Homo sapiens: one gene and its partners. The protein of the gene in region 1 interacts with the protein of each later gene in a biochemical or structural test. Each region holds a gene or a part of one and is shown in the gene's direction. Other genes may lie near its edges.

Region 1 (3,749 bases):
TATAAAGCTCACATGCTTACCGACCCAACTGCCCCAGGAGTGACCACTGCCAACAGCTTCATGTCGACCTTTTTGCCATAATTTTTATATAGCCTTTTTTGTTTTTAAATGGTAATTTAGAAAGTCAACTAGGAAAATGTGTTACAGGTTTATCTTCCAGGAGAATAGGACTGGAGTCGAGATCTTGAATGTGGCTTGGAAGAAGGCAAGCCCACCCCAGAGAGATGAGTTGACAGTTGTTTCTGACCACTGCTTGCTTAGAGGGCCTGCGTGTCTGTGACCGCCTAGCTTTGCGCCCCTGACTAGGCTGCCCCTTAATTACAAATGTCTTTATATATTGCTCCAGCTAAGGCTTGGAGTAGTCGGTTAAGAACTTGAACTTCGGTTTTTGCAGTGAAACAGCATTTGAGAATATCACCTTCTGATAAGCCTTATTTTATAAGGTGGGTACTGTAGTGGGAGGCAGTGTGAGAGATGCTTGAAGGATGCACTGCTGTCCTGCATTTCAGCATCTTCAGGATGCTGTGCAGCTGAAACATTTGATAACGGTGGAACTGTTCGTTATTTTGCAAGCCTGTGATTCCCTATTGAATGTTTTCTCTCGCCATTTGACAAATGAGTGTTTCTCTGTCTTCAGCCTCAGTGAAGGATGAGATCAGTGGAGAGCTGGCTGCTTCTTCAGGGGTTTCCACTCCAGGGTCAGCAGGTCATGACATCATCACAGAACAGCCACGGTCACAGCACACACTGCAGGCGGACTCAGTGGATCTGGCCAGCTGTGACTTGACAAGCTCTGCCACTGATGGGGATGAGGAGGATATCTTGAGCCACAGCTCCAGCCAGGTCAGCGCCGTCCCATCTGACCCTGCCATGGACCTGAATGATGGGACCCAGGCCTCGTCGCCCATCAGCGACAGCTCCCAGACCACCACCGAAGGGCCTGATTCAGCTGTTACCCCTTCAGACAGTTCTGAAATTGTAAGTGGGCAGAGGGGCCTGACATCTTTTTTTTTATTTTTTATTTGAGACAGAGTCTCACTCCATAGTGCAGTGGAGGCCGGGCACAGGGGCTCATGCCTGTAATCCCAGCACTTTGGGAGACTGAGGCAGGCGGATCACTTGAGGTCAGGAGTTCGAGACCAGCCTGGCCAACATGGTGAAACCCTGTCTCTACTAAAAATACAAAAATTAGTTGGGCGTGGTGGCACATGTCTGTAGTCCCAGCTGTTAGGGAGGCTGAGGCAGGAGAATTGCTTGAGCCTGGGAGGCAGAGGTTGCAATGAGCCGAGATCGTGACACTGCACTCCAGCCCGGGCAACAGAGCAAGACTCCATTTCAAAAAAAATAAAAAAATAAAGTGCAGTGGCTCGTTCTCAGCCCACTGCAACTTCTGCCTCCCAGGCTCGAGCGATTCTCCCGCCTCAGCCTCCTGAGTAGGTGGGATTACAGGTGGGCACCACCACACTCAGCTAATGTTTGTATTTTCAGTAGAGACAGGGTTTCACCATGTTGGCCAGGCTGGTCTCAAACTCCTGACCTTAGATGATCCACCCACCTTGGCCTCCTAAAGTATTGGGATTATAGTTGTGAGCCACCATGCCCGGCCCTGCCACCTGCCATCTTTTGAGTTCTTCCCTGGAGACCTAGACCTGAACCCTCCTGCTTGTTCTCTTGTTATCTAATACCCCTATTGACAGCGCAGCTTAGATCATTAATGGAGAGCTTGACCTCATCTGATACCTTCACTGAAGGAAACAACTTAGTGTCTTTTGTGTTGAACACTGAGGTAAAAAATTGGAATAGTTGATTATATGAACTCTGCTAAAATTGAGTGCATTTTACATTTTTTAAGGCCTTGTTGGGCCCTGGTTAAATAATTATTTTTAAAAATCCTTAAGGAGCCTATTATAAACAGATCTGTGGTCTTAATGAAATGTGATTAATACTGTGCATTATTTTAAGAACTTTTGACTTTTCAAAAAACTTTTACAACATTTCCCATTTGATAGCGGCATAGGTTTAAGCACTTCTCATCTCTAAGTTAGTGGACAAAAAACCCTCATGGATAGTCTAATAATGTTTGCTACAAGTCCATGTTGAGTTTTATACTCCATTTTATTTTCAGTTTTAAAAACTGTGGTTAAATATGTGTAACATAAAATTTATGTTCTTAACCATTTTTTGCGTATACAGTTCGCTGGTATTAAATACATTTAAATAATGTCATGGAATCATTGCTACCACCCATCTCTGTAACCTTTTGATCATGTAACACTGAAGCTCTGTTCCCATTGAACTCTATTCCTCCTTTCCCGCCAAGTCCCTGGCAACCACGATTCTTCTTTCTGTCTTCTGAATTTGACTACTTTGGGTTCTCATATACTTTAGGAGTCACACAGTATTTGTTTTACTTAGCATAATGTCCCCAAAGCTCATGCATGTTGTAGCCTATGTTAGAACTTCCTAATGTTTCAGGCCAAATACTATTCCATTGTATGGATAGGCCACATTTTGCTTTTCCATTCCTCTGTCCATGGACACTTGTATTGCTTCATGTTTTAGCCATTGTGAATCATGCTGTTATGAACGTGGGTGTACAGATAGCTCCTGGAGACTCTGCTTTCCATTTTTTTGGCTAAATACCCAGAAATGGAGTTGCTTTTACATTCCAATTTTAATTTAAAACATTCATATCATTGAGTGTTTTACTTAATAGTATAGTAGTTAACAAACTTAATAAAATAGTATTTTGGTAATAATTTGCTGGTAGTCCATTGTTCAGTTTTTTTAGGTAAATTACACAGGACATTTCAAGTGGACATGAAACATCTTGTGATGTGGAATCATGCCCCAAGCTGATGGCTAAACATATGAAATACCATACCCTAAATTTAGTAGATTTAGTCTTTGCAATTTAGGAGATAACCTGTTATATTGTTAGGTTTTTGTCGAAAAGCTTTGTCCTCATATTTCCAACTTGCTGTAAAATTTGTTTGTGAAGACAAATATTTTTGTATGGGTTTTTTCTTTTTCATATTAAAAAGAAATGTCCACATTGGAATTTTTTTGGAGTTTTTAGAGCTAATAGAGCTTTTCATAATGTAGTGGGAATGAGTGATCAGTAAGCTCTTAGCAGTTTCCATGCGTGCATTTCTGTGCCTTGAAATAAATGACAGATGAGTACATTTGTGTTCTGTGTGTAAAATGTGCTCTTTCCTCATTGCACTTCCATGTTGGAGGGCTTGTCTCTTGGTGATCACACTTCAAAATTCTCACAGCCCCCCTTGAACCGTTTAGGTGTTAGACGGTACCGACAACCAGTATTTGGGCCTGCAGATTGGACAGCCCCAGGATGAAGATGAGGAAGCCACAGGTATTCTTCCTGATGAAGCCTCGGAGGCCTTCAGGAACTCTTCCATGGGTATGTGGACTACAGGTGATGCGCTACAAAGTGGTTTGTATTCAGACCTGGACATCTTAATTATATCTTTGCTTCCAAGAAGAAGTCCTTTGATACTGTTTTCTGAGTTCTGAATAGCTGATGAAAATGACCAATTGAGGAATAATCATACTTTTTCTTGATCTAAATCTTATACTTTTGAGTTATCTTAGCATAAATGTATAATTGTATTTTAAGTGGAAATTTGTCACTTAATCTTGATTTCTCTGTTTTTAAAGCCCTTCAACAGGCACATTTATTGAAAAACATGAGTCACTGCAGGCAGCCTTCTGACAGCAGTGTTGATAAA
Region 2 (3,749 bases), on another chromosome or scaffold:
CATAGTGAGCCTGTGTTACAAGTAATCTATTATTAACTTTTAAGATGATACAGTGCTATGATCGAAGGACTAAAATGATCAACATCACCATAAAAGGCAGAGTCATAAACAAGAACAATTAAGTGTAATTAAATCAGGTGGGAGGCACACTTACAAAAATGAAACAATTTTTGGTTCACATTTTACACCACACAGGTATTCTGTATCTTTAGAACATGAGAAAATACATATTCTCAGTCTGATAGGTCTCTGACTTGGGGGTTTCTTTTACTGTACTTTTTTTCTCTCTAGTAGCTGAACATTTTAAAGCAATCAGCAGAAAAAATATAAAACTTCAGAACCAATTAGACTTTTAAAAGCAACGTTCTTGCCCTTTCCAGAGATACATTCCTTAATCCTCCTACAAATCATGACCTCACACGATAACTTTAAGGGTGAACATCAACTTATCTACATTTTGGTGCTTTCTTTCCCTTAAGTGGCAGATGGTTTCTATTAACCTAAAATTGAAGTCATTGTTGGGGGACCCCTAATTCCATGTCTAGTCCTAGTGCCCAGAGGCTACCAAAGACGATACGAATAGCTTCTCAGGCACTCTACCCACCGTTTACCTTGTTAATACAAATCTTTCCCAGACCTGGGTCCCGAAATTATTTTACCCTGCAGAGCAGAAATGTTACGGTGTTCATTCAGTGAACTCTTCCCTAGTTTTTAATCTTTGTATTTTCTGCGTATACTTCAAGCCACCAGTAACTTTCCCAGTTACCAAGAAACAGTGTAACACAGGTCGCTATTTGTTTTGTTCGGAATTTACGAGCAATTTAACCACACGTGATTAGCAACATTAAGGGGGCTCCTCCAGGCAAAGAATCCACAGAATGAGAGGCCCTTGGTACCCAAATGAAGCAACAATGAAAGATCGGCGAAGCTCAGCAAGGTTCCTGAGCGCCACGGACGCCTGCTCTGATTTCAGGTTGCCGGCGCGCGCCCGCGGGTCTGCCTTTATGGACGAGGCGCAAGAGGGATCCAGGAAAGACGGTGCCCTTAGAGACTCGGAGATTAGCGTGGGCAACCCTGCCACCAGCTGCCCCTGCCACCAGCCGCCCCCACAACAAAAAGGAGGAAACGCTCCGCATCCCGTCACCAGGACAACTCTGTAACCCGACACCGAGGCTCAAGATTCCGCATCCCGGGCAGCGAACACAGGAGAAAAGCACATCGCGGCCCGGCCGCGGGGCTCCAAGGCGTCCGTGCCGCCGCTGTTCCTGGGGTGCCGAGAGCGACGCGGGGTCCACCCTCTCCGCCGGCCCGAGGTCCGAAGCTCGGCCCGCCACCGCTCCCGGCCGGCGCCTCCCGCACGTGGCGGCCGTGATTGTCCCGGGGCGGTATCCCTCCGCGCCCCCGCCTCAGTCTCCCCCCGCCCTTCCCGGGACCCTCCGTGCCCGGGCGCCGCGGAAGGATCGCACGCACGCGCGCGCGCACGCCCAGCCGTGTCCGCGGAAAACGGAGGGCGCTGCGGTAAGGAGCAGCCGCCACAGGCACAGCCGCTTCGCAGCCTCCCGCCGCTGGTTTGTCAGCCCCGCGGCTGCGGGCGGCCGGGCGGCCGAGCGCGCTCTGAGGTTCGTCCCTCATCGCTGAACCCGCGTCCTCCCGCCGCAGCTCCTCGGGGAGGGGGGCGGTCGGTGCCTGCGCAGAGCCGCCTCCTCCCCGCCCCCGCCCCGCCTCCCCCCGCGCCGCCGCCGCCCGCTACCGCCGCCGCCGCCGCTGCGCCTGCTGCTCCTCGCCGTCCGCGCTGCAGTGCGAAGGGCTCGAAGATGGCCGGTTGGCAGAGCTACGTGGATAACCTGATGTGCGATGGCTGCTGCCAGGAGGCCGCCATTGTCGGCTACTGCGACGCCAAATACGTCTGGGCAGCCACGGCCGGGGGCGTCTTTCAGAGCATTACGGTGAGGACCAGTGGCGGCCGGTACCCTGGTCCCTGCACCGGAGCGGGGTGGCCGGCCGCGGGGGCACCGCAGCGCGGGGCTGGAACACTGAGGGCCGAGCCCGCAGGTGTGCTAGGCAGCGGGCGCCGAGGATGCGGCTGCCGGGCGGGCGGGGAGGCCGAGGCCCGGGGACGCCCCCTCACCCGGGGCTGCGCTGACAGGCTGGGGGCGGCGGCCGGACTCCTTGCTGGCCCTGGCCGGGCGCCCCCGGCGTTCCCAGCGTCGGTCCAGGTGCCCGGGTTGGGGGAGGGGGCACGCACCGGCCAGGGCAAGGGGAGGGGTTCCTTTTTTCCTCCTAGTGCGGTTCCCCTAGGTTCTCTTGAAGCCCTGAGGTTTGCTATGCACGTTCTGGGGTGGAAGCGGGGGTCGGGGATCCGGGCTGGGGCGCGCGGGCCCCGGGTGGAGGTCCCTAGGCTCTCTGGCCGGCTCTTGCTCCGCGGACAGCGCGCCTCCCGCGCCTCCGGCTGTGGGAGGCGGCGGCCCCGGCCCGGCCCCCGGGATTCTCGAAGCGACTTTGCGTAGGTTTACCGATGTCCAGGCCTCTGGGGCTTGCGAGAGATGTACGCCGACCGCGTAGGTGGATTCGTGAATCTCGACTTCAGCTCTAGCTCTATAGGTTGTTTTTTTTTTTTTTTTAAATTCTCCAAGATGGCGAACTGCCATTGATTTCTCTTCTCATATGGAGATTCATCGATATACGGTTATCCCCAGTTATGCAACATAGCTCAAAAAAGGGGTGCTTTTCGGGGGCTTTCAATTATCTGCGAAGACCAGGAGCACACTTCACTTCTCTAAGTCCCTCCCTCTTTAGTGGTGGCAGTAAAGGAACTAATGCAGTTTTATGCTTCACATTGCCTGATTTTCTTGAGACTTGATGGTTTTGAGTTGGTTGCAATATGTTTGGAGAATATTTGCCACAAAACCTCCAGCTTATTGTTTTGCCTGTTTCTGCCCAAGGCTGTTTCTAAAATTATGATAATTGTACTAAATACGAGACCATTCTCTTTATTTCTTAGCACCACGCTCCCTTTCCATTAAGCACCAAAATTCAGGTCCCCTATTAAGGGTGCTAATTATTCTTTTACCACTTAACATGGTTTAAAGTCTAACTTTAGAACTCAGTCCTTGATAGTAGTACTTTAAGGTCTCGTATACCCGCAGTGGACTACAATTCTTGTAGGGAATTGGCATCTGGTCATCAACTTTTTTCCTGCAGTCCTCTTGTCTTTGTGTGTGAGTTCCCGCTGTCTGACTAGGAAGATTGCGGGAGTGTGCTTGGAAATGGCTGGGGCCTGCTATGACTCTGCAGTTCTGATGGGGGCGACGCCTTCCTTCTTATTCATGGAATGTTAGAATGCACGTTTTCTCCTTTCCGGTTCTGGTGGCTACCTCAGTTTCTTTCCCAATCTCCCTCCATTTTTTCTGTTTTACTATTGCCTACCGCAGTGCTGTAGACAGAATCCACTTTGCGTTTGCCCAGAAAGAAAACTGATTACTGAGATGGGAGGGGAAGGGAAGTTGGAAAGAAACGGGAGTCGTGGCTAGAAAAATAGGAGGGAAATATGAATTTGGAAAAGCACTGATGTCCAGGGGTTGAAGTCCATCTCATCACGTATATTTCTAGTTACTCTAAGCAGAGAAGTGAACACATCAAAGAACAGGCTTTATTTTGGGAGACTTTGAAGCAACTTTAAATTTGATGAAACATGATTTACTGTAATGGGACTGAATATGATAGACCAGCTTTGTTCAGAGTTGATAGCT
Region 3 (3,749 bases), on another chromosome or scaffold:
GCAGCTGGAGTGACTGCCTGAAAGGGCAGCCTTCATTCTGGTAGCCATGGCCAGGGCTCAGTGGCAGAGCCAGCATATCCCAATCAAGCTGTTCCTGGACACCCTGTGGATCTCAGTGCTCAGATTCCTAATTCCTGCTCATCCCCTCCACCTTGTTCCCTACACCCCTCCTGTGAATCTCCAGGCTGCCTGACATCCTTCTCCAATACATATTTTCCAGCTTATGTTAGCTAGAGTCAGTTTCTATTGTTAAAACCCTCAAACTCTCACTAGTCTTCTGAACAAAAGTGAAGGAAGGAATGTGTAAGAATAATGAAAGAAAAATCAATGAGAGAGAAAAATCTGTAGCAATGATGAGTACCTTCAAAAATATTTTGAAAGACCAATAAAATCAGCAAACCTCCAATAAATCTATTCACTGAAAAAATTAAGACAAATCACAAAAACTTTTACAAAGGAGAAAATGTATATGAAAGATTCTGAAGTTTAAAAAGTATGATCTTCAACTCTATACTTGATTAATGAAGGAGATAAATTACCAAAATCAACTGAAGTGAGAAACTTGAATGTACTAACGACTGTGGAGGAAATGCCAATAAACTGTTTGAAAAAAAAGCACCCCCCTCCTCCCAAAGGGCACAGAGCCGGATTGGTCTAGGGGGAGGTACCATAGAACCGGTGCTATTTAAACCTCTCTGGAGCATGGAGAAAGAGGAAGCTGAGCAGCCCTGAATAGCCTAGGACAAGAGAGACCTGCCAATCCTGGACTCCAGCTGCAGCTGGCTCTCTGCCTTATGTAGTGGTTGGCCTGCGGTGAAGCCCACTGTTGAGAGGCATTTGAACTGTTGTATGGACAGGTCATCTTGCTACGCCATTCTGACCCAGCTGTCACCACCCTCACACTTTTTAGTTATCTATCAGTGGCTGGTGTCAGGCAGGTAAGCCCACAACACTCACCCAAGTCATGCTCATTAACCCTCTGACTGGCTGCCCTTATCCCACGATCTCCACTAAGTTCAAGCATTTTTTCCCCAGTATCAGAGGAGGAACACTGTTTATTCCAGTCTACATGCTTCAAGTAGAAGTGAGGAAACCAAGGCCCAGAGAGGTGTGTACTTACTTGCCCAGTCCTCACTAGGATGAAGTCAGGGTTAGGACTAGCCCCGACTGGGCGCTGGGAGCTAACAGCTAGGGGAGGAACTGCATGACTTTTGTCCTGGAGAAATGTTATGGCAGGTGGACACCAGGGCACAGGCATATACCCGAAGTGTCCAGGGCAGACAGGGACTGCTCGTCACCCCAGATGGGACCTGCTAAGGGCCCAAAAAGAGACTGAAGGTGGGAAATGTTTTTGTTTTTCAGTGTGAAGCGTTGCCAAACATATATTCTAGGTTTGGGAATCCTCGGGACCTTTGGAAGCCAGATTCAGCGAAGATGCTGTACCTTTTGGGGATAGCTCTAACACGAGGTTAACGCAATGCTCCATGTCCCTGGCTGGGCTTAGCTGTGAGTGCGTCGACCTCTGGACTCTGTGCAAATGGACACTCTGTAACTGACACAGCTGGTAGGGGTTACCGAGAGAGCTGGGTTCCTGGTCTGGTGGACTCCGCCGGATATGCAACGAGCTCTTTATGGCACCTTGGAGATGGTTGCTTTTAGTGCCGTTGACAGCGGGCTCAGAGCACCAAGTGAGCTAGCACCGTATTTATTAGTAAATTACTCCATAACTCTAGGGCTCCCAGAAGACCAAAATCATTTGAGCAGATTGCACCCAGAGCACCGCGTGGAGAGAGAAGAAAGCCCGCCACCCACAGACCGCTTCCTCCTACCACAGGTCCCCCATCGAGTTGCATTTGTTGTCCCTCCCTAGGCGCATTTCTGAGCCTTCCTTTCTTAAACATACACCGAGCGAAAATGCGCCGGAGGGAGGCGATGTTGCCTGTGAGCCAAAGCCGGTTCGGCACCAAGACAGAAGCAGAGAGAACTGATCTCTCTCCCGGTACCCATGACAATCTCAGAGCTAGATCTATATCGTCCCGCGCCCAGCAAGAAGCACTGTGTGACTGTACTCCCCCGACCCCCAGGACATCCCCACGCCCAGCTTCCCAGGCCGGTCTTCTGCGCGGCTCAAGTAGCCCAGGTCTCCACGCAACAATGAAGCGTGGGCGGCCCCAGCAGCTTCATTTGCATATCGCCGCGGCTTGGCCAATGGGCTGCGCAGGGGCTTTGGAACGCAGTGTTGCCATCGGCGTGCGCGCGTGTGTGCGAGTGTGACAGCGGCTGTGGCTGTGGCCGTGGCCGTGGGAGGCGGGCCCGGCGGAGCCCAGCCGCGGGGGGACCGGCCCGGGCTCCCGCTCCCCGAGCGCGTCGCGGCCGCGTGGCCCAGCCGAGCCTTGAGACCACCCCGCCCCTGCCGGTCGCAGTCGCGATGTCGGTGGCCGGGCTGAAGAAGCAGTTCCACAAAGCCAGCCAGGTAGGGAGGCGCAGAGGAGGGAAGGAGGGAGGGGGACGCGGAGGCTGCGGCCCCCCGAGGCTCCCGGGCCTTTGGGACTCCTGTTCCCTGAAGGGCCTCTCTCGGGGCTCAATTTCTTCCCGCCTAGGAGGGCGCGAGGGTGGGGTGAGGGGCCGCCTGCTCTCTCCTCGGCGTCTTGGCGCCTTCTCCTTCCCATTCCCTGGCCCCCGGCTCTGCCCTGGGCCGTTGTAAATCGGAGAGATTCTGCGGAGCGGAGGGCAGAGGTGGCGGCCGCGGGGACTCGGGAGGCGGAGACGGAGTGGGCGTGGGGGGGCCCCTACCCGCGCGAGGGGAGGACGACCACAGGGAGTACGATGCCGGCAGGGCCTCCCCCGAGTCTCCAGCCGTTTGGTTGGGAGAGCCTCGTGGGGGGCCCATCCTCCACCGGCCACCGGCGCCTCCAGAGATGCTGTGTATTTGGCGCTTGGCTGTGTCCCGCTGAGCTCCCCGCGCGCGCATCGAAATGGCCCCGTCTGGACTGTGCCCGGCTCCCCGGCTGGGGCTCTCTACCGCGGTCCTTCCCCTCCCCACCGTCTTCCCGGTGTCGGCCCGGGGCTGGGCATCACGCTTCTGCTCTTACAGAGCTGACAGCCTGCAGGGGAGACACGGAGACAGACACGTAAACAAACAGTGCTAGACACACCTCCACGCACAGAGGATGACAAATAACACAGTGGGGGCGTCAGGGAGAGCTTCCCGGAGGAGGAGACATGTCATTTGAGAATTAAGTATGAGGAAGAATTATGGCTGAGGGTGTGGGATGATAGGAGGAAAGCCGTTCTGAGCAGAGGAAACAGGAAAACAGGAGGGGAGACATGAAATTGATGTGTGTGTGTGTGTGTGTGTGTGTGTGTGTGTGTGTGTTGATGACAAGCAAATTTGTTTTTCAACATCAACATTGCAGGCTCTTCCAGCTATGGCAGAGCTCACGTTGTAAAACCTGTTCCCCACCAGCACCGCTGGGTCTGTTGCTTCTCACCACCTCTCCCCGCAACCCCAGCCCCCATTTTGCTAGAGCCAGGGTAGACAGATTTCATTCAACGTCCACATTTGTGGTGAGGTCTCATCCTGCTTCTCCCACAAATTGGCCCATAGAAAGCAACTGCAATTAGAAGATTCTCTTCTTCTAGCCCCAGTTCCAGGCTGAAAGGCACTGCTGTCCCCTCACTCACACTCTTTCCATATGGAAACTGGGTGATGCTGTTTCTAGCTGGGGGCACTGGGTGGACAGTGGTGC

The links.
Region 2: the proteins of HTT (region 1) and PFN2 form a complex in vitro, tested with the Homo sapiens proteins (one study listed by BioGRID).
Region 3: the proteins of HTT (region 1) and SH3GL3 form a complex in vitro, tested with the Homo sapiens proteins (2 studies listed by BioGRID and IntAct, with this or other methods).

Annotation. Positions count from the first base shown.
Region 1 is NC_000004.12:3,126,627-3,130,375, forward strand, and holds part of HTT (huntingtin), read left to right. Parts: intron 1-637; coding exon 638-978; intron 979-3,297; coding exon 3,298-3,421; intron 3,422-3,678; coding exon 3,679-3,749.
Region 2 is NC_000003.12:149,968,922-149,972,670, reverse strand, and holds the start of PFN2 (profilin-2), read left to right. Parts: upstream 1-1,775; 5' UTR 1,776-1,814; coding exon 1,815-1,946; intron 1,947-3,749. UniProt on the Homo sapiens protein: Binds to actin and affects the structure of the cytoskeleton. At high concentrations, profilin prevents the polymerization of actin, whereas it enhances it at low concentrations. By binding to PIP2, it inhibits the formation of IP3 and DG.
Region 3 is NC_000015.10:83,445,106-83,448,854, forward strand, and holds the start of SH3GL3 (endophilin-A3), read left to right. Parts: upstream 1-2,235; 5' UTR 2,236-2,428; coding exon 2,429-2,473; intron 2,474-3,749. UniProt on the Homo sapiens protein: Implicated in endocytosis. May recruit other proteins to membranes with high curvature.